Homo sapiens: one gene and its partners. The protein of the gene in region 6 purifies or fractionates together with the protein of the main gene of each other region. This does not show direct contact. Each region holds a gene or a part of one and is shown on either strand. Other genes may lie near its edges. The genes, in order: BMAL1, LARP1, GLMN, VPS50, EIPR1, GRIPAP1 and PKN3.

Region 1 (3,500 bases), on a different chromosome or scaffold from region 6:
AGTCTTACCCATTAATTTGTTAACTTTCAACCTTTTTTGGGGGGAGCAAAACGCTTTTTCAAATAGAAATGTTTGCAGAAGATTCCTGTATAAAAAAGAAGTATTGCTGCCCTTGTAGAAGCAGGATTTCTACTCTTACCCTCTCTCCTTAGCAACTATCCCCACGCCCATCCCACCTGGTAACACCACAGCTCTTGGTAACCTGAACAAACCTCCGAGGAGCTCAGTTTTGAAAATCCTTGCCCTGCTTTTGATGGTTTGTGCCCTAGGAGTCCTGCCTATGGAAATTCCTGATATTCTCTCTCTCTGTTTTAGGAGATGGGGAAAGGAAGCCATTGTGTCCAAAATGATGGCCTTTAAACTGTCCTAAGCTCTACTGGCATCAGGCAATATAAACAGATTTATAATTTACGATTAAGATGGGCCTAGGCTTATAAGTTCTCCAGCAAAGATGAAAACAAATGACTGGTTCCTAAACCTATTTATAGTGTAGTCTTATAGCAAGCTCTTCATGAGGGCTGGTGATTGATCCACTGCTTGGATCCAATGCTGTCACACCAATGGAACCCCCAGGCAGCAGATCCCCAAGTATTCTGCAGCTATAAAGCATGGCTTGATTTCCAAAGCACTGCTGGTGGCATTGCTGTTTCCATTGCCTGCCCTAGACACTAATATTTTCTCCCTTGAAAATTCCTGGCAGAAAATGAGAAACTTTTCTATGTGAGGTACTCAATAATCTTTCCCTCATGGGAACTCTTGAATTGCTCCCTCAATTAAATGAACTGACAGTTCCCCATTCCTTATTCTTTCTCCCTTCTTCCACTCACATGGAAGAAAGCCTCTGAGGATGTCAGCAAGCCTCCCTAGCCCTACCAGTATGCTTTGTATCCAGCCTCACACAGATGCATTTACTTCAAGGAGGAAGTAGTCCAAATTGTTTCAGCAATCGCAGTTGCAATTCCATACTCCCACCCCCAACATTTCAGATCTTGGGCAAGAGGTTCTCTAGCTTAGGCTAAGAATCATCAGTCTTACCTTCTTGCCTCCTGGAGAAGAGGCATCAGGGGGAGGCGTACTCGTGATGTTCAATGGGCTGGAGCCACAGCTAGAAGGCGATGACCCTCTTATCCTGTCAGAAAAGAGAATTACACTGCCTTTTCTTTTTTCAGTGGAGTGTATGTGCTTTGTTAAGGGGTAAAGGTGAGAAAGGGGATGAAGATCTAGATTAGGGTTTGGCAAGCTTTTTCTGTAAGGGGCCAGATAGTAGGCTCTCTAGGCCATATGGTGTCTTGTCACAAATGCTCAACTCTGCCTCTGCAGCTTGAAAGCAGCCACAGATACGAATCGGTGTGGCTGTGTTCCAATAAAACTTTATTTACAAAAACAGATGACAAGCTGGATTTGTTCTACAGGCACCTGATCTAGAATGCAGTCCCTAGAGTCAAGCATCTCACTGACAAAGCCCTTGGATTGGAGTTTGCATTCAGTTGGTGAATTTCAAGTAAGTGGCCAGTTTTATTTCCTCACAGAATCCAGGTGAATTGGAGGAGAACTTCTAAGATCAACCTCCATCTTTGATCCACAGAAAACAATTTGTCCCCTTCTCCACAAACACTGTTTAGCTAGTGAATACTCTTAGGACATGGACGGCACCAGGGTCTAAAAGGTAGCCTAGTAGTAGTGACAGGAAAAGCAGCCTTCGAAGGCAGTGGTTGATGAAAAATGGGTCCAGGCCTTTCTTATCTAGCATATCTCTCAGAAGATTTATAGAAGGGAAGACTTAGAACTGTAAATCCACCTAAATACTTGTCAGGCTGAAGGACCTCAGGAAAGAATCCATCACTTGGCATTGCAGCTACAGTTTAGGGAGAGTGTGATGGCAGTTGTGTAACCACAGGACTCTCAGCTCCTACATGGATGAATGTAGCTTTTGGGTGACCCAGAGACCACTCCTCCACCACCCAGAAGTCTTTTGGTTCTTGTACTGCCTAGTTCTCTAGATTTATGAGTGAACAAGTTTTCTTTCTGGATTAGAAGCTTCTTAACGGCAGTTTACAACTACATATCATGTATTCTCAGCATGCACAAACGGCTGCTAATTGCTTACGGAAAAATTGCTGAGTGTCCCCCACCTTTCTCTACTTATGTCTATGAAACCACTATTTTCCCAGGTTTCTCATCTTGGAATTGCTGTTTCATCATTCCTGATTTCATCTTCAAACGCTAGACCTTAGATGATTGATTTCTCTTTTGGCAGTGTCATCTCTGTAGGATAAGGCCTCATTCCTGAGTTGTCAAACATGCCCACCTTCATCTCTCCCTATTCCAATGCAACTTCCACAAAGCGTAACACAAGACTTTGGATGCTTGTTCAGCATCCTACAACAAATGGGGTCTTACAGGTTTCTTCCAAACTGCACAGTATCATTTCTTGTGTTTCTTAATCGCCTATCATAGCTCTGTGTCTCCTTCCTACACAAAGCCTGCCCAGTTAGGTAGCTTGTTTCTTGACCCTGAATTTGCCACTCACATGCCCACTCAAGAATAGCCCTGGCTTTTCTAGAGGGAACATCCACTCTTATTGCAAACCCTGGCTAAGGCCAAGTTCAAATCTTTCCTCTTTTGCTTGCTTTGGCCCATGCACCCTCCCTTTTTCCTGTTATCATAAAGAAAATAGACTTATAAAAGATTTTAAAATTCTTGAGGTCAAGGACTGTTTGATACTGTTCTTGGATGGTCTCAAGCAAAATACAGGGTATGCAAATGCAAAGTATAGGGTTTGAACCTGATTACACTGCACACTACCCTCATGTCTCCTTCCTGATGCAGAAGTCACACCCACTAATCCTGTGGGGTTGGAAAAGAGCTGTGTTACCTATAGGGGGATAACAGCCCCTTTATGGCCAATTGGAAAACAGGCCAGCCTCTAATTCTCCTGAGAGAATCCAGCGGCAGCAGTGTTTTCTTCCTTTTCTTATGTTACATTAAGTTTCGTTCTGAAGAATCTGGTTACCACCTTCTCTATTCCCCAAATTTGGACAGACTTATGATAACTGCTTCCCTCTCGACTGCTCTTAAAGACAGATTTAATTAATTTTTAAGCACTCACTATATGTCAGGCTGTGTTCCTGGAACTTTCCTGAGTGCCCTCACAATCCTAACACAATTCTTGGGAAATAGTGCTTTCTTTTTATGGTTTAAATCAACAGAGAGCAAGAGGTTAAGTAAGTCTCAGCATAGCCAGGTAGAGAGACAGGCCCAGGACTCAGACCCAGGTGGACTGCTTCTAAGCTCCTTCTCTTTCATATGGAAAGGAAGTCTCTCCCAAGACAGCTAGTAATAACTAGCTGATCTGCTTGGTTTCTAGTACTAATCCTGGGCAGCTCTTTGATTGAAAAAAAGTGAATGTTTTGTTAAGGTCCAGATCACTCTGATAGTTCACAGCTCTACTCCTGCATTCCTGTAAAGTAAAGGTACATCTATCCGCACTGAGAAGCTCC
Region 2 (3,500 bases), on a different chromosome or scaffold from region 6:
TTACCCCATGACCCAGCAATACTACTCTTCTAACCAAAATAAAGGAGAAACTACGTCTACAGGAAACCTGTATGTGAATATGCCCAGTAGCATCATTCACAATAGACAAAAAGTAGAAACAACCCAAATGCCAATCAACTGATGAATGGATACACAAAATGTGATACATCCATACGATGGAATATGATTTGGCAATAAAAAGAATAAAGTACTGATGCATGCTATGACATGAACCTTGCTGTGTATTTGTTAGTATACCAAATATACTAAGGGGAAGAGGCCAGTAACAAAGGACCACATACAGTATAATTTATGTGAAATGTCCAGAATAGGCAAAATCCTTAGAGGCAGAAAGTAGGTTAGTAGTTTCATAGGGCTGGGAGGATTCTGGGGGTGGGGAGTAGTTTGCATGTATAATGAGTATGACTGGTAAGGGGCATAGCATTTTGGGGGTAATGAAAATGTTCTAAAATTGATTCTGGTGATGGGCACACAACTATATGAGTACACTTAGAGCTATTACATTGTATTCTTTAGGTATGTTCCATCATATGTAGATTATATCCCAATAAAGCTGTTATTACACATAGAGTAAGAAAGAGAGAAGTGAAGTGGATGAATCAAGAATTTAGCAACCACGTTTTGTTGAATGAAAGAGGATGAATGAGTTAATAACTACAGGTGACTAGATTGGTTTTGCGCGTCTTTACAGCCAACCTATCAGAATACTAAAAGAGCAGGGACAGACAAGAGCATCTAGACAGGCTCGTTCCTTACACTATCATCTAGAGAGGGGATCAGCAAACTACTTTTGTAAAGGGACAGAGAACAAATATTTCAGGCTTTACAGAAGACATATAGTCTCTGTCACAAATCTTTTTTTCTTACAACCCCTTAAAAATGTAAAAACTGTCCTTAGCTCCAAAGCCATACGAAAACAGAATACTGGCTGGATTTGACTCACAGGCCAGTTTGGCAACCTTTGTTCTAGAGAGCATATGTCACCTCTTACATACCCTTTTGTGATGGACAGTGGACTAGACCTGACAATGGCTGAGTCAGTAATCTTGCCAGAGATATGGAAATACTTAATTGACAGCTTTAATAATCAATAGAGGAAGATCAAAGAACACGAACGTTGTGAGTGCCATATCCCCCTAGCTTCCTACAGTTTAAAACTACCTGGCCCGAGTCTAACTTCAGTCTTTCTTGCTATAATGTCATGTCTTTTTTTTGCTCTGAAGTCAGAGAAAAGAGTCACCTATCCCCGTATCCCCCAACTCTTATACTCTGGGTCTAAATAACGGGCCCAGAGGCTCATCTCCTGCCCCCCACACTTCTTACCATTAAGGCAGCGCCTACGATACTTATGGTAGACGTGTTGTGTGAAGCCATTTTCCTTGAGCAGTTCATGGGAAGGATGCTGGAACTTGGGCAATGACTGAGGGGTACAGCCATAGCTGCCAACTGTAGGCGTCCCTTCTGAGGGGCTGGAGCTACAGAAACCACAAAAAATACTGTCACCAGGTTCCCCACAGCAGCCCCACCATGTCAGGAGGGGTCCCTCTGATCCGTTCTGTCAGCCAAGATCCATCCTCTCACAGGGTATCAAACAAGGAGGCCCAGTTACGGACCTTTAACTTATATCCATGGGTCTGATTAACTCTGCATCAACTCTCAGAGAGTTTTACAGAGGATACTGAGGCTTACAGAGATTAGGAGACTCATCCAGGGTCATAAGACTATTTAATGGCAGAAACGTGTCCAATGATAAAACTTGAGCTTTTAACCATTTATTAACTTTAAGCATTTAACCTTTTAATGAGCCATCATGGGTCAATCCATCTACAGTGAACCCTTGAACAACATGGGTTTGAAATGCATGGATCCACGCGTGGGTCCACTTATACGCAGATTTCTTCCACCTTTGCCACTCTTGAGACAGCAAGACCAACCCCTCCTTCTCAGCCTGCTCAATGTGAAGACCATGAGGATGAGGACCTTTATGATGATTCCCCTTTGCCACTCGAGAGAGCAAGACCAACCCCTCCTTCTCAGCCTGCTAAACATGAAGACCACGACGATGAAGACCTTTATGATGATTCTACTTCCACTTACTGAACAGTAAATATTTTCTCTTATGATTTTAACTTTTATTTTAGGTTCAGAGGTATGTGTACAGGTTTGTTAAGTAGGTAAACTGTACCTCACTCTCCTCCCTCTCCCCACCAAGTAGGCCCCAGTGTTTGTTGTTCCCTTCTTTGTGATTTTCTTAGTAATATTTTTTATTTAGCTTATTGTAAGAATACAGTATGTAATACATATAATATGCAAAACATGTGCTAATTGACTATATGTTATTGGTAAGGCTTCTGGTTAACAGTAGGCTTTTGGAGAGTCAAAAGTTATACACGGATTTTCAACTGTGTGCAGCTGGGCACCCCACGCCCTTCGTTGTTCAAAGATCAATTGTATATTTTCTTCAAAAGCATGCCTATTTGCAGTCTGTGCCATCTCTGCAGGGAGTAGAGAGCATTGGTCATAGGTAGGTGGCTCTCAAAGCTTGCTTTGGGAAACAGGAAACACACACTGGGGCCATCTTACTGAAATAAATAAAAAAGAGTGTGGGCCCTACCCCAAGAAGCAGGGTCAGCAGATACAGGTTGGGGCCAATAAATATGTATTTTTTTAATTTTTAAAACTTTTCAAGTAGCCTCCCAAGACATAGTAGGCTCAGAGAGACTGCCAGAAATCTGTTTATTCAACTACCTGGCTATTCTTCCTCAGACAGAAAGTAGATAGCCAGGCTTGGAAACCAATTCAGAGATTTTCTCTCTGCATGTATGAAAATCTGGTCTCACGTGACTGCCACACCACTTCTTTAGGAAAAAAGCCTACCCGTCATTCCCAGGTCCTGGGCTGAGCTTTCCACACCACTGGTTTTTTGAAAACCTCTTAGATGAGGGTCCCTTTAATTTTCAGACCAATCTTCTTGGTCCAGTCAATTTCATGGCTCGCCCACCCATCCCATAGGCAGCCTGATCACTCTTCCCCCACTGCCCCAGGTACCTGATGGAAGCAGTACGGGGCCTGTGCTCACGGGAATCCATCACCCAGCCCACATGGCTCTCCAAGGGTGGGTTTGAACTGTGTCTTGTCTTTCTTTTTCGAGGCATCTGCAAAGGTTAGCCCAGGGTTTGTTACTGTTTGTACTCCTACAACTCTGAGGAGCATCAAGCACTTGTAGGACTAAGATGGGCATGATCTCTCACATTTTACAACAGCATTTTCATATTCATTCTCGTATAAAGTTCACAGTGGTGAGCTAGGAACTGGTATGCCTATTTCAAACAGGTGAAGAAATCAAGGTTTGGGAATGCAGTGATTTGCCCAAGGACTCATACCTGGTCAATCCTCCTTAGGCCTTTCAACATGGGGTTACCACTCCCACACCCAGTATATTTTGCAGATGTGGCTACCTAATCCTAGGTAAGCCCACC
Region 3 (3,500 bases), on a different chromosome or scaffold from region 6:
GATCAGCTTCCAATGGTCTTAAGGTAAGAGTTAGTGTTTGGTTTATTCATGTATTCTAAAAGGAATTTCATAAAATTCTCATTTATCTAATGTCCAATATATGCATATTAACACACTAATACATTTTAAATAAATAGTAAAGGCTATTTTTAATAAGAATGATCCCAGCTATAATCTGTTAAAGATAGCAGTAGACAAGTAATGAAAGTGGGGAGTGTTGAAATAGGTGTAAGGGAATGGTGGGGACAAGAATCAGAAGATGATAAACAGGGCTTGGTTTTGAAGCTTTTGAGACCACCCTGGAACTAGCCAGGTACCCAGGGGTATCATCATCTTTTCACTGGATTACTGCTGTAATCCTGAGTGGATTTATATATCTACTTTTACTTCCTTTTAATTTAACACATTCTCAACATACCAGAAAGCGAAGCCTTAAAAGAAGTCCCTTACTGAAAACCCTCCAGTGGCTTTTTATTGCTTTAAGAATAAAGTCTTAATGCCTTTGCATAACTTCTGAGACAAACTTGTGCCTGGTCTGGTCCCTGCTTAATTGACCTGATTCATCTCCTACCACCTTTCCTCTTGTTTACTATGCTCCAGTGACACAGACCTTCTTTTGTTTCTAGTTTAAATGTTATGAATTTTCCTATTTGGCCTTTGTATATGCTTAAAATTCTCTTTATCCTTAAATGTCACTTTCTGAAGAAAGCCTTCACTCACCACCCAATTTAGGTTGAATCCTTCTATTATAATTACCTTGACCTTGTCTTCTTTTCCCACAATGTTTATTAAAATTATTTTTAAAATATATAATTTTATAATGTAATATCTTCTGGACTTTGAGTTCTATGATAATAAGGATTGTGTATTTGTCTTATAGGCATTGGGTATTTGTGTGAGTTTGTGCATTTATATATGAATATAGCTAGGAGTACATTCGTATGTAAATGTTGAAATACTGGCTATCATTTGCATGTTCACCATGTATGAAACATTATGCTAATAACTTTATATGCATTATCTCATCCTTATAATAAGCCTGTGAAATAGAGCATTCTCTCATTTTACAGATGAAAATAACAGGCTTAGACAAGTTAATATACCACTGAAGATCTAACTACTTTGTGGCATAGGTGGGATGCAGATAGCTCTGTCTGACCCCAGAGCCTATACTCTTAAGCATCACATTCTATCACCAAAATAACTTATACAGCATATGTATATTAACTTGCTAGGGCTCCTGTAAAAAAGTGCTACCAACTGGATGGTTGAAATAACAGAAATAGTTTGTCTCATAGTTCTGGATGCTCCTTCTGAGGGTTGTGAAGGAGAATCTTCTCCATGCCTCTCTCCTGGCTTCTGGTGATTTGCTCACAATCTTTGATGGTCTTTGGCTTGTAGATGCATTATCCTGTTCTCTGCCTTCATGTTCGTATGCTGTTCTCCCTGTGTGCTTGTGTCTGTCTCCAAACTTTCCTTTTACATAAGGACAACAGTCATATTGGATTAGGGCCCACCCTAATAATCTCATTTTAAATTGATTACCTCCATAACCCTATCTCCAAATAAGGTCAAATTCTGAGGTACTAGAGGTTAGGACTCCAACATATCTTTTTTGGGGGAGATACAATTCAACCCATAACAATATGTATGTGTGTACATATCTCTGTGTGTGTGTATAATATATATATTTGTTTTGTTTCTATTTTAGCCCATTGTACCTTTTGCAGTTTAATATGGGGCACATTGAAGTCTTTTTGCAAAGGTAAGATCGTTTAGATGGTATCTCAAAATGAAATAGTAGTGTTAAAATAGTCCTTGTTAAGATCAGCGGAGACTGCCTTTTCTTTGCTAAGCTCTAATTAATTAATTGGTTATTTTATAAAACAGCGAGGCAAATAATTCACGAGAGAGACAGAAATGAGTCAAGGAGGTTTTACACCAAAGTCTGTTTTATTTTAAACTTAAGACAGTATTAAGATTTTGTCTTAAGGGCTTTTACAGTCATCTGTTTCTAAGGTTTCTTCTCTTACTCCAAAAGTTGGTAAATTAAAACACCTCTACCCCACTGCATCCTCCTCCATCTTAAGGAAGGGCAGTCAATAAAAGAAGTTCTTCCGTATTTTTCCTTCATGGACACAGTCTGTGAATTGCATCAAAAGGAAGGAGGTGTCTTGACTTCCACCTTTTATAATTTAGATTATTGACAGTGATGTCATTCAATTACAACTTTTCTCATTTGAGGTGCTAAGCAGCAGGACTTTCTATTTAAAAAAAAAAAAAAAAAGCCAGGCACGGTGGCTCACGCCTATAATCCCAGCACTTTGGGAGACCAAGGCGAGAGGATTGCTTGACCCCAGGAGTTCGAAACCAGTCTCTCTCTCTACAAAAAATAGAAAAAATTAGCCAGGAGTGGTGGCGCCTGCCCGTTGTCCCAGCTACTTGGGAGGTTGAGGTGAAAGAATCACCTGTGCCTGGGAGGTCTGGGCTGCAGTGAGCAGAGATCATGCCACTGCAGTCCAGCCTGGGCAACAGAGTAAGACCCTGTCGCAAAAGAAAAAAAAAAAAAAAAGGAAATTACAGAGTAACAGGTATACATAATTTCTAGACAGAAATTAAAGAATTTCACAGAACTATATGCTTTGTTTTCTTTCACTATAACATGTAACATGTTTAAATTATCCCCTGAGATCAGTTAGGGCTTTGCAATTATCCTCTATGAACACTAGTGACAGTTTATCAGTCCCATCTCTTACCAGGTGAAGGAAGATTTGTAACATGGCAATGTCCAAAGCTTCAGCATACAAGGCAGGAATTTCCAAGGGTCTCCTGGCACAAGTAGTTACTAATTCTGTAAATTTGCTGTATTATGTATGTTTTAATGATTTTATATTCATTACATTTAGTTTCTGTTATTCATACAGTGATAATATGTATTGTTTTGAATCTAAGTCCTAAATTCTTGAGATTTCCAAACTGCAGAGTCATTGAGTCTTTTTTTGAATAAAAAGAATTGGAAAGATTTTACAGAATAATCAACTGGAATATATAGCATTGGTTATATCAGGTTTAGTTAGTTTCTTAGCACTTGCTGTTGAAGATCTATTGTTTTGAAGTTAGGAAATAATCCCTGAGTAGATTTATTTTGGTCAGATTTAGTGGCCTTAGCCAAACCGAAAGACAGATCAAAGATGGATTAAAACTTTTGATCAAGTTCTTCAACAGAATTTCTCCTTAATGATATGCATTTTAAAAGTGTTAAAATTTCAGTTTTTGCTGTATTTTTCATAAGATGAAGTATCATTCTAAAATAGTTTACAAATTCATGATAAATTTTAATATTATTTTTCAGAACAGAAGAGTCTGTTATCTCCAAAGGATTGGTAAGATGTTTGTTCCCATTATAACTTAAATACATAGTTATGTCAACAAATAACAGCTGTTGACTTCACTATATATGTATCTGCATATATTTTAATCTGTAGGAGCTGCTGGAGAAT
Region 4 (3,500 bases), on a different chromosome or scaffold from region 6:
ATACTCTTGATAGGCACTCTTTTCTTGTTCATCAGATTCATACTGAAGAAAACACAGGTTATTAAAAAATGAGTATAAAGGGCCTCTTTTCGTGGGGTGTCTCAACACAGTGAAAGTACTCAGTTTTATAAGAAACAGCTAAATACAAGAAAATTCTTAATTTAGCTTTAATGTTGTCACCAAGAATCTAATTATTCTTCCATTGTCTTCATCATTCTACCTCAATCAGCACAAAAGAAAAATATTACACCTATAAAAGCTTGAAAATGTGCAACAAAATCAAATCGCCATAAACCAAAACCTAACAAACATTCCACTAGGCCTAAAGAGTATACATTCGCATTTTTTTTTCTTAAAGTCTCTCAGAAGTTTCACCATACTTATTTCCAATTTGCTAATAAAACTCATTAAAAAGAGGTTCAGTATCCAATTCTGGCATTCTGGAAGTATTACTTCAGCTTAATAAACACATGCAACACACATGCTGATGTTCTAATTCACTATAAAATTTAATTCCGAGGGCAGCTTAGAAAATTAAGCTTAGAACACAGGGACCTGCTGAGAATGAGGACAAAAATGGTGGATTTACTCTTGAGACAAAGGGTGTCTTCCTAACATTTTCATCATCTTTATGGCACCATGGCCCAATGCCAGCATGGGAAAGACAGTGGAATTCATGCACACAGTAAAGGAAGCAGTGACAGCACTTTCATCATCATCATCATCATCATCATCATCATCATCATCTATTAATGTCATAGATTAATACGATTAAATGGCTAACATTAATATCATTAAGTAATAGCTAACACTGAGTTTTTAACCAAGTATTATGCTAAGTGCTTTCATGAATTATCTCATTTAATCATACAGACACTTCTATGAGGAAGTTTTATCTCCACATGACAGTTGAGGAAACCAGTATGATAACAACATGGAAAGAATTTAGCCCCCTAATTCAACAACTATTTTTTGAGAGTCTGTTAATAAAAAGCACTATGAAAGGTCGTATTTAAATGTGGACCCTGATTCTCAAGGACATAAGTTGCACCTGGAAAGATCAGATCACACATTAATAACTGCAAACAAGCCTTACAGGTACTCCTTTATACTTATACACAATGTGATCCTGATGCTATGCAGAAAGGTATTCTACATAAACTAGGATGTCCTGATTACAACAACAGAGGTTTGTGACCACACCGTATCATAGATACTCATTATTTGAGGATTCAATGTTTGCAAATTTGCCTACTCACTGAAATTTATTTGTAACCCTAAAGTCAATACTTCTGATATTTTTGGAGTCAGTCATAAACGTGCAGAACAGTGAAAACTTTGAGTCATCCAACATGCATGTTCCCAGCTGAATACAAACAAGGCATGCTCTGCCTTCTTGCTTAGGCTCTCATACTATAAACAAGTTTCCTTTTCTTGACCTATTTAGTGCCAAGTGCTTTGTATTTTTGTGCTTTTTGTTGGTGATTTAACTGTTTAGAATGCCACTGCAAGTGTTGCGTTGAAGTGCTGTCTAGTGTTTCTAAGTACAAGAAGGCTGTGATGTGCCTGAGAAACAAAATATGTGTGTCTGATAAGCTTCATTTAGGCAAGAGTTACAGCGTTGTTGGCTATGAATTCAGATTATGTACTGATGGGCTGATAAACATGTCGTAACCCGAGGCTCACAGGAACCTAATCCTATATTTGCTCTGGGAGTAATGGTTCAGTATTTGCTAATTTAGTATTCACAGCAACTTTATAGAACACACTGCTGCAAATAATGAGAATCAAATGCTATCTAAGTTTTAATTAATGAATCACTTTTATAGAGAGATATATTATTCCAAAATAATTGGAATGACTTTAAATTCCTCTCGGTTAAGCCAACTTCACAGAGGCAAAATGTCACAAAGAATCACTGAATCATAATTTTAAATATGGCTTACTATGAAACAATTTAAACTTAATGAATTTTGTCTTCACCAAATGAAAAATAAATTCTAAAACTAACATAAAATATAAAGACAAATCCTTCAACATATTTTGTCACATCTGAATGGTTTTCACTTTAGCTTCATCAAATCAAAAATAAAAATCATATTGGGTCATTATGGAAATTATGAAGATCAGAAGAAACCATCAAACAAAATATTAAGTCAAGTAAAATACTGTGAAAACACCATGCAGGAACTGTGAAGCAAGCATTCCTCTCCCTGTAAATATGGAGAAACTGAGGGTCACAAAGTTAAAATAATTTGCCAAGGGCCACACAGCTGATAAATAATAAAGATGATATTCATTATTTGCCTTCAAATCCTTTCCACTAACTCACACTACGTCTAGTTAATATTGTTTTTGAGGTCCTCAAAGTGTTGTTAAAACATTGTACTTCTAAATCTCAAAAAATATCCCTGCCAGGCAACTATGCAAGACATTACCACTTTCTCTTAGATAAAGGGACATGGAACAAAATGAATCAGTGACCCATAAAGGGTGTCGAGAAAAAGGGTAGATGATATCTATTCCGTCATCTCACAATATATCACATAATATTCACATAATATATCACGTAAATATTCAGTGAAGAAATTACACTACTACTTGATTAGCAACCTGATAAGAACATCATGTAATAAGAACATAAAGCAAACATAAAGGGAAAATTTACTATTCAAGAGGACAAGGTCAACAAAGCATATTGTAAAGTCATCATCTATAAATGTAATAGCATAGGTACATTAAGTATACAGGCAGGCAGGGTGGTAGTAAATGGATACGTAAATGTAGTGAATTGCCTTGTTCATTGAGTAGAACAGTTTTAAATAAAAAAAACTCACTTATGTTTCACATACACCACATACCCCATTAGAAGCTAAGACATCTTCTGTTTCTTCATCTTTGTGGTTGGCCTGAATTTCAAATGGATTCCCACCACTACAGTACTGCTCAAACAAGGTCACTGTTTTTGAAGAAGTTGAGACTGGCTGTTTACTAGGTGAAACTGATGGGGAGCGAGACTGTTCCATGAATTTAAATTCCTAGATGTTAAAAAAGGAGCCAGATACCCTTTAGCAACAATAAAATTCTAGTACATAAACCGAATCCCTCAATATACATGTAGAGTTAGTAGAAAAACAACATCTTGATCTTCAGTTTATTGACTTTTAAATCTTTCAAGTTATCTAAAAGCACAAACTTGGAAATACACATCTAAAGGTTTTCCTAAAGACAACTCAGTGAATGGTATCACTTAAAACAGTATCATCTGCATCAAGCTACTTTTGGCTTCCTTTAAGAAACTGCAGAGATCATTTTTTAAAATAGCTTAAGAAATCTGAATGATGTCTTCTAAAAATTTTAACAGAACAGCAAAAATCCTAATCAATAAAGTCATTTATGAAAACTAATTGTTAAACACTTCTCTTTTTCATATGCTTGCACCACTTAAGATATTCTGTACAAATACATCAGAAATAAAGTATGAAGTACATATCTGTGTT
Region 5 (3,500 bases), on a different chromosome or scaffold from region 6:
GGCACTTGGTGCCCCATGGCCAGGAGCTCCATTATCAGGACCCAGAGGCATGGTCAGAGCTGTTTATCAAAAGACATGGTTCTGTGCTGCAGATGGCATGGCTTGCTCCAGAACCCCGGGACCACGTGGTGACTCCAACCGGGCTCTCCACAAAGTCCACACTGCATGCTTTCTACCACTGACAACTTCCACACCAGCAGGTCTACTAGGCGTCCCCAGAAGCAGGGCTGCCTCTCCCCAGCCTGATCTTGCTGTAGTGCCCTCTTGGCCTAAGCTGGCAGCCTTACGTGCTACCCCAGCATCTGGGCTGGTCCAGCCTTCCTAGGTGTATAATGTGTCACCTCTAGAATGAAGAGGGCTGGCAGGCATTACAGCGTCTTTTCTGCTTTTGCTCTGGAGGGGAAGTCCTGGTGTCCTCAGCAGAAGTAGCAGGTCCTGGAATTGCCATAGCTTGTGTTTCCTGCCGTCTTGCCAAGGTCTTCTGCACGCTCCTCCTACGTTGTCACTGTAATGTCATGAATGCAGTGGGTCCATGTGATGTTCTGTGGGCTGCCCAGGTCTGTTTGGACTATATTATGATAGAAAATGGGAGACCAGCACAGCTCTGTGGCAAGAGTGTATACTGTTTTCCTTTGCTTGTGAATGCGGATGGTTTCTCATCTTCTTTCTTCATTGGGATAGGACAGCGTGCATTTGACGGTCTGTGTACACACATCATGTGCCTGAGGGCCTGGGAATCTGCTCTAACAAGACTCCACAGCTGGCACTGTGGATCTGAGTGGGCTCCTGCTTTGTTGAGCTTAGAGTCATCCACAGGCATTCTCCAGGGCCCATTAGCTTTCTGCAGAAGCCAATGGTGAATTCAGCAAAGCCACACCCACTTCATATCCTTGATTCTTAAAGTAAGCGCAGGTCTCTACCACTCTTTGATGGGTTGGGACGGGGAGGCAGTTTCAGAGGCTTCTATGTGACCTTCCCATTAACTCCACAGGTCACAGGCCCGGTATGGGTATTTCACAAACTGCCCAGGATGTCAATCCCATTTGACCTTAACAGACCTTGGAGTTGCCCACCAGGTGCGCCCACAGACTCAGAGGATCTGCGGTAAGCCAGGCCCTGCCTAGGACTTTACTTATCACCTGGCATCCCCATGCCCCACTCGGGCCGGAGGACAGTGGGACACTGGGTTGCTGGACCCCTGTGCGTGTCTTTGTGTTCAGCAGACCTGGAAATGTGTGGGGATTACCCTTTGCCCAGGGAATGGCATTCAGGAAAATGGCCGTGGGTCCCTTTGGGTACAGACTAGGGTAATCATTGCAGTGTACACCTGCCCTAGGGTTGCAGGTTCCTAACCCGTGGGGAATCTGACCATCTTTACCGTCAGTGGGTTCCAGCTCTGAAGCTGCCTCAAATCTGGATCTGGGTAAGGGATTGTGACTGTGAGTGGGGTGACTTCCCTCAGCCTTCTGCTCATTCATTCTTGTTTTCTTTTTAATATGTATGTACGTTATGTACGTTTGCACTCATGTGTGCATGTGTCAGGCAGGCAGTACTCTCCTTGAATGCCTTGTCTGTTTCACCCCTAGGAATACCAACTCTATTAACTGTCTCCACAGCCCTCTGCCAGTTGAGCTTCCTTGGCCGGCACTCTGGTCTCGTTGGTCATTATGATAATTGCCACCCCCTGACTTCTGGCAGTTACATACCGTCACCCGACCACATTTACTTGGGGCTGGGTTTAACTGCCCAAGTCAGAAAGCTGGACAAAGCTTATTATCAACAAGCCAAGCTTTGTGACAGCTTCTTCTAAGAGTGGAATTATTGGGTCATCTGGTAAGTGAATGTTCAACTGCAAAAGTGTTTTCCAAAATGTGTGTACTGTTTTACACTCTTTTTTCACAATCCGTGAGAGATCCAGTTACTGTACATCTTTGCCAATACTTGCTATTGTTGGTCTTTTTTAAATGAAAATTTCACCACTCTAGTAAGATGTGTGGTGAGTCTCACATGGTTTCACTTTGCCTCCTTCCAATTATTAATAATGTTGAGCATCTTTTCTGGTGCTTGTTGACCATTCATATGTTTTCTTTTGTGAAGTGTCTGATTTGGCGTAAGGTACATTTAAAAAAATTGGGTTGTTTCATTATTAAGCTGTGGGAGGTCTTTATATTTATTCTGGATACAGGCCTTTTGTCAGATATATGTATTATAAATATCTCCCCCAGTCTGTCTTTTCTTTTCTTTTGTTTTCTTTCTTTCCTTTCTTTCCTTCCCTCCTTCCCTCCCTCCCTCCCTCCCTCCCTCCCTCCCTTCCTTCCTTCATTTTTTGAGATGGAGTCTCGCTGTGTTGCCCAGGTTGTAGTGCAGTGGCACAATCTTAGCTCACTGCAACCTCCACCCCCCAGATTCAAGCAATTCTCTTGCCTCAGCCTCCCAAGTAGCTGGGATTATAGGCGCCCACCACCATGCCCAGCTAATTTTTATATGTTTAGTAGAGACGGGGTTTCACCATGTTGGCCAGGCTGCTCTCAAACTCCTGACCTCATGATCCGCCTGCCTTGGCCTCCCAAAGTGCTGGGATTACAGGCGTGAGCCACCATGCCCGGCCACTGCTTCATTTCTTTAATAGTGTCTTTCTGAAAGCAGAGTTTTTCATTTTGATTTTAAAGAAGTTTTAAATTTTAATGAAGTCCAATTAATAGGGTCTTTTGGTGAATAGAAGTTCTTAATTTTAATAGATTCTATGTTATTCGTCTTTTTCTGTATGATCCAGCTTTTTTTCCTGCCATTTAAGGAATCTTTGCTTGTCCCAAGGCTGAGAAGATATTCTACTATGTATTCTTGAAAAGATTTGTATTATTTTATCTTTACGTCTTTATCATCAGTCTAGCTGGAATTGGTTTTTGAGTATGTTATGAGGTAGGATACAAGTTTATTTTCTTTCATATGGATATACAATTGATCCAGCATCATTTATTGAAAAGACCATCCTTTCTCCACTCTTGAGTGTTATTTTTGTAGTAAAACAAGTGACCATCTTTCTAAGGGTCTGTTTCTTTCCAGCTTCCAAAACTTCATTGCTCTTCTATCCTTGTGGGTTTATGTTTTTAAAAGAAAATAGAAAGAAAAACCCCTCTTTGTTACAACATTAGAAGGGTTTCAGAATGGAGTAAAAGTTGAAGTGAGTGTAGATTCTCTTATCTATATTTTCTTGGAGGTTCCTCCATTGCCTTCTCTACTCTGTGAAGTTGATGGACTGTGGGGAGAGAGGTGAATAGCGCTACATGAACCGGATACGTGGAAACTTCATTGTCCAGCTGGTCACTTAAACATTGTATCTGGTGTAGACTTTGAAGGGAGGTAGCTTACCTGAGAGTGGAAAATCTTACTTCACCTGTACCACTTTTGCTTTATTGAGGGCAACGTGGATATAGTTAAGGAGTTTGGTGAGCTGGCGTTTACAGGAAAGTCACTTTCTTTACACCTGAACAGAATTCTCC
Region 6 (3,500 bases):
CAGACAGTGACGGGCCCTCCTGGGAGGACAGAGGCTTCCCAAGCCAATGCCTAAGCTGCTTTCTGCTTTGCAGGGCAAGGAGGAGGAGCTACAGGATGTACGGGATCAGCTCGAGCAGGCCCAGGAGGAGCGGGACTGCCACCTGAAGACCATTAGCAGCCTGAAGCAGGTCAGTGGTCACTGCACAGCCCCAGACACACCCCTGATCCTCAGCGTACAGGAGGGGCAGGGAGGGAGCATGCTTCAGGCAGCCCTTCCGGCATCTACCAGCCATGCCTGCTTTCTCCCACAGGAGGTGAAGGACACAGTGGATGGGCAGAGGATCCTGGAGAAGAAGGGCAGTGCTGCGGTAAGACAGAGCGGTGCCCAAGCACGGCTCCCTCCTACCTGTAGCCTCCCTCCTATGGGCCCACTGGGCCTCAGTCCTCATGTTACCCCTGTCCCCCACAGCTCAAGGACCTCAAGCGGCAGCTGCATTTGGAGCGGAAACGGGCAGATAAGCTGCAGGAGCGACTGCAGGACATCCTCACTAACAGCAAGAGCCGCTCAGGTGAGGGACTAGGACAGGGAGAGGAGGCTGAGGCATGGGGGAGGTAGGGCCTGGGCCTGCAGGCTGCAGGTTAGTCCTGCATCTTCCTCAGCTGTGCTTTCCTGCTTCTGTCGCTCTGGAACTCCATCTTTTACCTTTTCTCTGTCTCTCCTCTGATTCTTTCTCTGCATTCTCTCTTTATTTCTATCTTTCTCTCGTTTTTGCCCTGTCTCTTCTCTGTTTCTGTCTCTGCCTCTGTCTCAGTTTGTTCTCTCTCTTTCCTCTATGTTTGCCTTTATCTCCTTGCTTTCTTTCTCTAGTTTTCTCCTTTTCTCTCTCTTTTTTTTTTTTTGAGACAGAGTTTCGCTCTTGTTGCCCAGGCTGGAGTGCAATGGTGTGATCTCGGCTCACCGCAACCTCTGCCTCCTGGATTCAAGCAATTCTCCTGCCTCAGCCTCCTGAGTAGCTGGGATTACAGGCATGCACCACCACGCCCAGCTAATTTTGTATTTTTAGTAGAGACGGGGTTTCTCCATGTTGGTCAGGCTGGTCCCGAACTCCCGACCTCAGGTGATCCGCCCGCCTCAGCCTCCCAAAGTGTTGGGATTATAGGCATGAGCCACTGGGCCCGGCCCCCGCCCTTTCTTTTCTCTGTCCCTTTATCTCTTCCCGCCACTCTGTGTCCTCTTCGTCTCTTCTGTTTATATCTCTGTCTGTCTCCTCACTGTATGTACTACATTACACACTCCCACACCTCACTTGGCATTTCTAAATCTATTGTATACAATCTCTCATTCTATAAATCTCCCTGCTCAAGTACAGGGTCCCTGATATAAAACTCCCTGAGTCTCTGCCCTCTAGAAGCCCCCAGTTGAGCTACGGAGACAGACTTATACATAGTCAGCAACGCTGTGGTGTTTTCATTATACAGCTAATCCAATCTGTTATTTCTGCCACTTCAAGCAGAAGACACACACACACACACACACACACACACACACACACACACAACTTTAGTTGCTTCAGCCTTTTTTAAGACGGGGATGGCCTATAAATACATTTAAGTAAGTAAAATGCAGTGATGGCTCTGGTGCATCTCTTAGATTACAGACTCAGAGAAAACTTGGTCCCTTATTCCCCCACTCGGGATACCTACGGATCCCCACTCAGTCACCCCACCCTTGCCAGAGATCCTCGAGGGCTTTAAGTGATGTGGCAAAACAGATGTGTATCTCTCACCAAATCAATTTCTCTCTGAGGCACTCGGTCTCCTGAAGTAACCTTTCTTTAAAAAGGAGTTTTGTTTCTGTTTTATCACAGATGAATGTAAGAATCTTGGGAAAGGTGTAATCCCAGCACTTTGGGAGGCCAAGGTGGGTGGATCACCTGAGGTCAGGGGTTCAAGACCAGCCTGGCCAACACGGTGAAACCCCGTCTCAACTGAAAATACAAAAAATTAGCTGGGTGTGGTGGCGGGCGCCTGTAATCCCAGCTACTTCGGGAGGCTGAGTCAGGAGAATTGCCTGAACCCAGGAGGCAGGGGTTGCAGTGAGCCGAGATTGCGCCATTGTACTCCAGCCTGGGCGACAAGACTGAAACTCTGTCTAAAAAATAATAATAATAATAATCTTGGGAAACGTTACAATCGTATACCATACATTCAATACATTCACCTTGTCCATTAGATTAAACTGAGATTTAGGTGCGTGGGTACGAGAGCCTGCTTGCATTTCTTTTTTTTTTTTTTTTTTTTTTTTGTTAGACGGAGTCTCGCTCTGTCGCCCAGGCTGGAGTGCAGTGGCGCGATCTCGGCTCACTGCAACCTCCGCCTCCCGGGTTCACACCATTCTCCTGCCTCAGCCTCCCAAGTAGCTGGGACTACAGGCACCCGCCACCACGCCCACCTAATTTTTTGTATTTTTAGTAGAGACGGGGTTTCACCGTTTTAGCCAGGATGGTCTCGATCTCCTGACCTCGTGATCTGCCCGCCTCGGCCTCCCAAAGTGCTGGGATTACAGGCGTGAGCCACCGCGCCCGGCATCTTTTTTTCTCTCTGTCTCTGCTCTGGCTCACTTCTTTCACCAGGGTCTCAGTTTCTATCATCTGCTCTGGCTTTCCATCTCTGGCATTTTCTTTCTGCAAGTGGATGTGCCCTGTGCCCTCTCTAGCTGTCTTCCTTTCTCTGAACCCTGTGTCCAAGTGTGTCTGCCACTTGAGACCCATGTGTACCCATGTCGTTCTCTTTCTCCAACCTCTTCCATTTTCTCCCTCTCATTTTGTATGTGTTTCTCCAGAAAGGCAGCTCTTTCTTTTCTTTCTGTTTTTTTTTTTTTTTTTTTTGAGACAAGAGTCTCACTCTGTCACCCAGGCTGGAGTGCAATGGTGCGATTTCGGCTCACTGTAACCTCCGCCTCCTTGGGTTCAAGCGATTCTCCTGCCTCAGCCTCCTGAATCGCTGGAATTACAGGCACACACAACCACACCTGGCTAATTTTTGTATTTTTAGTAGAGACGGGGTTTCTTCATGTTGGCCAGGCTGTTCTCGAACTCCTGACATCAAGTGATCAGCCCACCTCAGCCTCCCAAAGTGCTGGGATTACAGGTGTGAGCCAGTGCGCCCAGCCTCAGCTCTTTTTTCTGTCTCTGTCTCTCCCTGTCCTCCTGTCTGCTTCTGCCTTTCCCCATGCCCAGGTGTCTCTCTTTCCATCTCTGTTAAATCTATTTCTGCCTCTTCCTGCTGGTTGCTGCCCTGGGACTCAGGGGTATTGGGGCTCAAGTTTCTCTTCCCTCCACCACCCAGGCCTTGAGGAGCTGGTTCTCTCAGAGATGAACTCACCAAGCCGGACCCAGACAGGGGACAGCAGTAGCATCTCCTCCTTCAGCTACCGGGAGATCTTGCGGGAAAAGGAGAGCTCGGCTGTTCCAGCCAGGGTAAGGGGAAAGGAAGAACCTACAGCTCCAGCTTCTCTCA
Region 7 (3,500 bases), on a different chromosome or scaffold from region 6:
GGAGCAGGTGGGTCCGGACAGGAAGCCAGGCTTCCTGCTCCCTGTCCCAAGCTCTTATCCTTGCCACAGTGCTCTCTAGGCCCCACTTCTAGGCAGCATCTCGTCATGTGCTGTGGCTCTGTGCAGCCTGGCTAAGGTCTGAGGTCTGAGCCTATGTCCCTGCCGCTCCAGCATGTGGAGGGGAGAGCCAGTTGCTCTGCCCTGGAAAGAGGTGGCTGCCACAGAGAAGTGTGCATTCTGGGACAACGTGGCTCCTCACCTGGGAGTGTCCAGGTCGGAGGCCTCCTAGGGTGTCATCGGGGTCCAAGGGTACCCTTTGGGGGGCTCATGGTGCTTGGGAGCTGCAGGACAGTCAGCAGGCTCCAGTCTAGGCACTCTAGGCCGCCACACTGAGTGAGGTTCCTCAGGTAACTGCCCTGGCCTCAGGTGGGTACGGTCTGGGTTCAGCCACCTCCTGGAGAGGGTGGCCTTCCTGGGGTCCCAGGACACCTTGGTGGTAGCAGTGGGAAGATGGCATCTGACAACGCCCCCCGCTCACTCTCCCCACAGGGACACTGCAGGTCCGCCTCCTGGGCTGTGAACAGTTGCTGACAGCCGTGCCTGGGCGCTCCCCAGCGGCCGCACTGGCCAGCAGCCCCTCCGAGGGCTGGCTTCGGACCAAGGCCAAGCACCAGCGTGGCCGAGGCGAGCTTGCCAGTGAGTAGGGAAGGAGCTTCAGGGGGAGCAGGAGACCCCTGCTTCAGGCCTGCCCTGAGTCCCGGCTCTGGCCCTGCAGGCGAGGTGCTGGCTGTGCTAAAGGTGGACAACCGTGTTGTGGGGCAGACGGGCTGGGGGCAGGTGGCCGAACAGTCCTGGGACCAGACCTTTGTCATCCCACTGGAGCGAGTAAGGCTGGCCTTTGTGTGGTCAGGGGTGACCTTGGGCTGCGGGGTGGAAGGCTGCCCAGGTCGGGGCTCGTTCTGCACCCCACCCTTCAGCCTGGCCTCCCCAATACAGGCCCGTGAGCTGGAGATTGGGGTACACTGGCGGGACTGGCGGCAGCTATGTGGCGTGGCCTTCCTGAGACTTGAGGACTTCCTGGACAATGCCTGTCACCAACTGTCCCTCAGCCTGGTACCGCAGGGACTGCTTTTTGCCCAGGTGCTCACCACCTCCGCCCTCTGACTTGGTGGGACCCTGGGGCGTCAGGGCCAGGAAGGCCTTCAAGACCGATGCACTGCGTGTAGGTGCAGAGACTGACGACCAGAGAGGAGGGCTCCAGGAATAAGGGCTCCTAGCCGCTCTCTCAGGGCTGCATCTGGAGGCCTGGGTCCTTGTCCTGACTGCCCTGCCTCAGGTGTGACCCTGGAAAAGTGCCTCTCCTCCCTGGGCCTCTGTTTCTCCACTAGTATCAATGAGGACATTGAATCTGTTTCTCTGGGTCTTTCTGGCTCTTGCATCTGTTGACCCTGGGGGCTTGGGCTGTAATCCCAGGGGCAGAGGAGGTGCCATGGCAGATGAGATGGGAGGCGACTGGTCCACAACCCTGCCCCTACCCCTGCAGGTGACCTTCTGCGATCCTGTCATTGAGAGGCGGCCCCGGCTGCAGAGGCAGGAACGCATCTTCTCTAAACGCAGAGGTGTGGAGGGAATGGGGGCTATGTGTGAGGGAGCAGGGCTGGGGTCCCGGGACTAAGCTCCCCCTTTTCTCCCAGGCCAGGACTTCCTGAGGGCTTCGCAGATGAACCTCGGCATGGCGGCCTGGGGGCGCCTCGTCATGAACCTGCTGCCCCCCTGCAGCTCCCCGAGCACAATCAGCCCCCCTAAAGGATGCCCTCGGACCCCAACAACACTGCGAGAGGCCTCTGACCCTGCCACTCCCAGGTGAGGAGCTCCCTTGCCCTAGACTGCATGCTCCTCTGTGGCGGCTTCCTGACTCCAGATCCAGGCGGTATCTGTCTGTCTGTCTGCATTGCTCAGCCCGCTAACCCTCTGTCCATCTCACTTTGGGTTGGTGTGTCCATCCTGCCAGCTCTTGCGTCTGCCTGTGCTGGGCACTGTGTCTACTTTCTCCCTACAGTAATTTCCTGCCCAAGAAGACCCCCTTGGGTGAAGAGATGACACCCCCACCCAAGCCCCCACGCCTCTACCTCCCCCAGGAGCCAACATCCGAGGAGACTCCGGTGAGGGGCTGGAGGGACTAGTGGCTCCTAGGGCCGGCTGGGGCTGGCAGGGCCACCCAGCTGTGGGGTGGCAGGCCTGAAGGGAAAGAGAGAAGGAAGCCCAGCCCTGCCCTGAGCTCCTCTATACTCACAGCGCACCAAACGTCCCCATATGGAGCCTAGGACTCGACGTGGGCCATCTCCACCAGCCTCCCCCACCAGGTACCCCATCCTGCGCACCTTCATGTTTGAGACGTTCGTCTGCTTGCTTGAACATTTGTGTATCCATTCATACATTACTCCCTGGCTCCCTGGCGGGTGCGCTGACTGGCTCTCGGGGTCTGATTTACTAAACCCACATTATTGAGCTCCAGCTCTATGCCGGCTTCTAGGAGTCCTTACTGCAGGGCTTTTTCGAGCCCATAGGTCGGGACAGCCCAGGACTGGGCATGGGAGGCTTGGAGTGGCTCTGGGTAGGGGCCCAGCCAGTGCCCTAGGGGACTTCATATACCCTCTCTTCCTTTGCAGGAAACCCCCTCGGCTTCAGGACTTCCGCTGCTTAGCTGTGCTGGGCCGGGGACACTTTGGGAAGGTAGTGGGCTGAAGAGGGTGGTATGGGACGGGATTGGGGGCCTCATCACATGAGCCGGGAGGACCTGATCTGTGGGGGCGGTAAAGGCTCCCTGGTCTGGCCCACCTGGAGCACAACCTCTCTCTGGCCCCAGGTCCTCCTGGTCCAGTTCAAGGGGACAGGGAAATACTACGCCATCAAAGCACTGAAGAAGCAGGAGGTGCTCAGCCGGGACGAGATAGAGAGGTGTGTGGGGGTGCCGCAGGGCACCCAGGATGGCTGGCCTGGGCTGTGGCATCCAGAGGGCAGTTGAAGGTTCCTGGGGCTTTGGAGAGGTGACCCCGTGGGGCCAGCCAGCCTGCATTCTCTTTTGGCACCTGCAGTTGTTAACTGTGTTTCCTTGGGCAGGTCCCCTCTTCTCTCTGTCAGTTTGCTCTACTGTAAAATGGGGGCATTGGTGGCTGTGCACGTTCAGAGCTCCTTGTGAGCCCCTGACATATAGAAACCATCACTCTATGGCCAGGCGTGGTAACTCATGCATGTAACCCCAGCACTTTGGGAGGCCAAGGCAGGCGGATCACTTGAGTCCAGGAGTTCAAGACCAATCTGAATCACATGGTGAAACCCCATCTATAAAAAATAGCCAGACATGGTGGCATGTGCCTTTAGTCCCAGCTACTTGGGAGGGTGAGGTGAGAGGATTGCTTAAGCCCAGGAGGTAGAGGTTATAGTTAGCAGAGATCTCCAGCCTGGGCAACAGAATGAGACCTCATCTAAAAAAACTAATT

The links.
Region 1: the proteins of GRIPAP1 (region 6) and BMAL1 purify together in Homo sapiens (affinity purification with mass spectrometry, with the first as the bait; one large-scale study listed by BioGRID). This does not show direct contact.
Region 2: the proteins of GRIPAP1 (region 6) and LARP1 fractionate together in Homo sapiens (co-fractionation; one large-scale study listed by BioGRID). This does not show direct contact.
Region 3: the proteins of GRIPAP1 (region 6) and GLMN fractionate together in Homo sapiens (co-fractionation; one large-scale study listed by BioGRID). This does not show direct contact.
Region 4: the proteins of GRIPAP1 (region 6) and VPS50 purify together in Homo sapiens (affinity purification with mass spectrometry, with the first as the bait; one large-scale study listed by BioGRID). This does not show direct contact.
Region 5: the proteins of GRIPAP1 (region 6) and EIPR1 purify together in Homo sapiens (affinity purification with mass spectrometry, with the first as the bait; one large-scale study listed by BioGRID). This does not show direct contact.
Region 7: the proteins of GRIPAP1 (region 6) and PKN3 purify together in Homo sapiens (affinity purification with mass spectrometry, with the first as the bait; one large-scale study listed by BioGRID). This does not show direct contact.

What each region holds. Positions count from the first base shown.
Region 1 is NC_000011.10:13,378,790-13,382,289, reverse strand, and holds part of BMAL1 (basic helix-loop-helix ARNT-like protein 1), read right to left. Parts: intron 1,130-3,500; coding exon 1,036-1,129; intron 1-1,035. UniProt on the Homo sapiens protein: Transcriptional activator which forms a core component of the circadian clock.
Region 2 is NC_000005.10:154,803,877-154,807,376, reverse strand, and holds part of LARP1 (la-related protein 1), read right to left. Parts: intron 3,177-3,500; coding exon 3,070-3,176; intron 1,497-3,069; coding exon 1,345-1,496; intron 1-1,344. UniProt on the Homo sapiens protein: RNA-binding protein that regulates the translation of specific target mRNA species downstream of the mTORC1 complex, in function of growth signals and nutrient availability.
Region 3 is NC_000001.11:92,267,988-92,271,487, reverse strand, and holds part of GLMN (glomulin), read left to right. Parts: coding exon 1-23; intron 24-1,711; coding exon 1,712-1,765; intron 1,766-3,352; coding exon 3,353-3,383; intron 3,384-3,485; coding exon 3,486-3,500.
Region 4 is NC_000007.14:93,305,366-93,308,865, reverse strand, and holds part of VPS50 (syndetin), read right to left. Parts: intron 3,039-3,500; coding exon 2,862-3,038; intron 43-2,861; coding exon 1-42.
Region 5 is NC_000002.12:3,259,319-3,262,818, reverse strand, and holds part of EIPR1 (EARP and GARP complex-interacting protein 1), read left to right. Parts: intron 1-3,500. UniProt on the Homo sapiens protein: Acts as a component of endosomal retrieval machinery that is involved in protein transport from early endosomes to either recycling endosomes or the trans-Golgi network.
Region 6 is NC_000023.11:48,978,265-48,981,764, reverse strand, and holds part of GRIPAP1 (GRIP1-associated protein 1), read left to right. Parts: intron 1-73; coding exon 74-169; intron 170-292; coding exon 293-349; intron 350-450; coding exon 451-550; intron 551-3,329; coding exon 3,330-3,460; intron 3,461-3,500. UniProt on the Homo sapiens protein: Regulates the endosomal recycling back to the neuronal plasma membrane, possibly by connecting early and late recycling endosomal domains and promoting segregation of recycling endosomes from early endosomal membranes.
Region 7 is NC_000009.12:128,712,503-128,716,002, forward strand, and holds part of PKN3 (serine/threonine-protein kinase N3), read left to right. Parts: intron 1-549; coding exon 550-696; intron 697-775; coding exon 776-885; intron 886-996; coding exon 997-1,140; intron 1,141-1,543; coding exon 1,544-1,619; intron 1,620-1,694; coding exon 1,695-1,863; intron 1,864-2,059; coding exon 2,060-2,162; intron 2,163-2,295; coding exon 2,296-2,363; intron 2,364-2,669; coding exon 2,670-2,733; intron 2,734-2,866; coding exon 2,867-2,958; intron 2,959-3,500.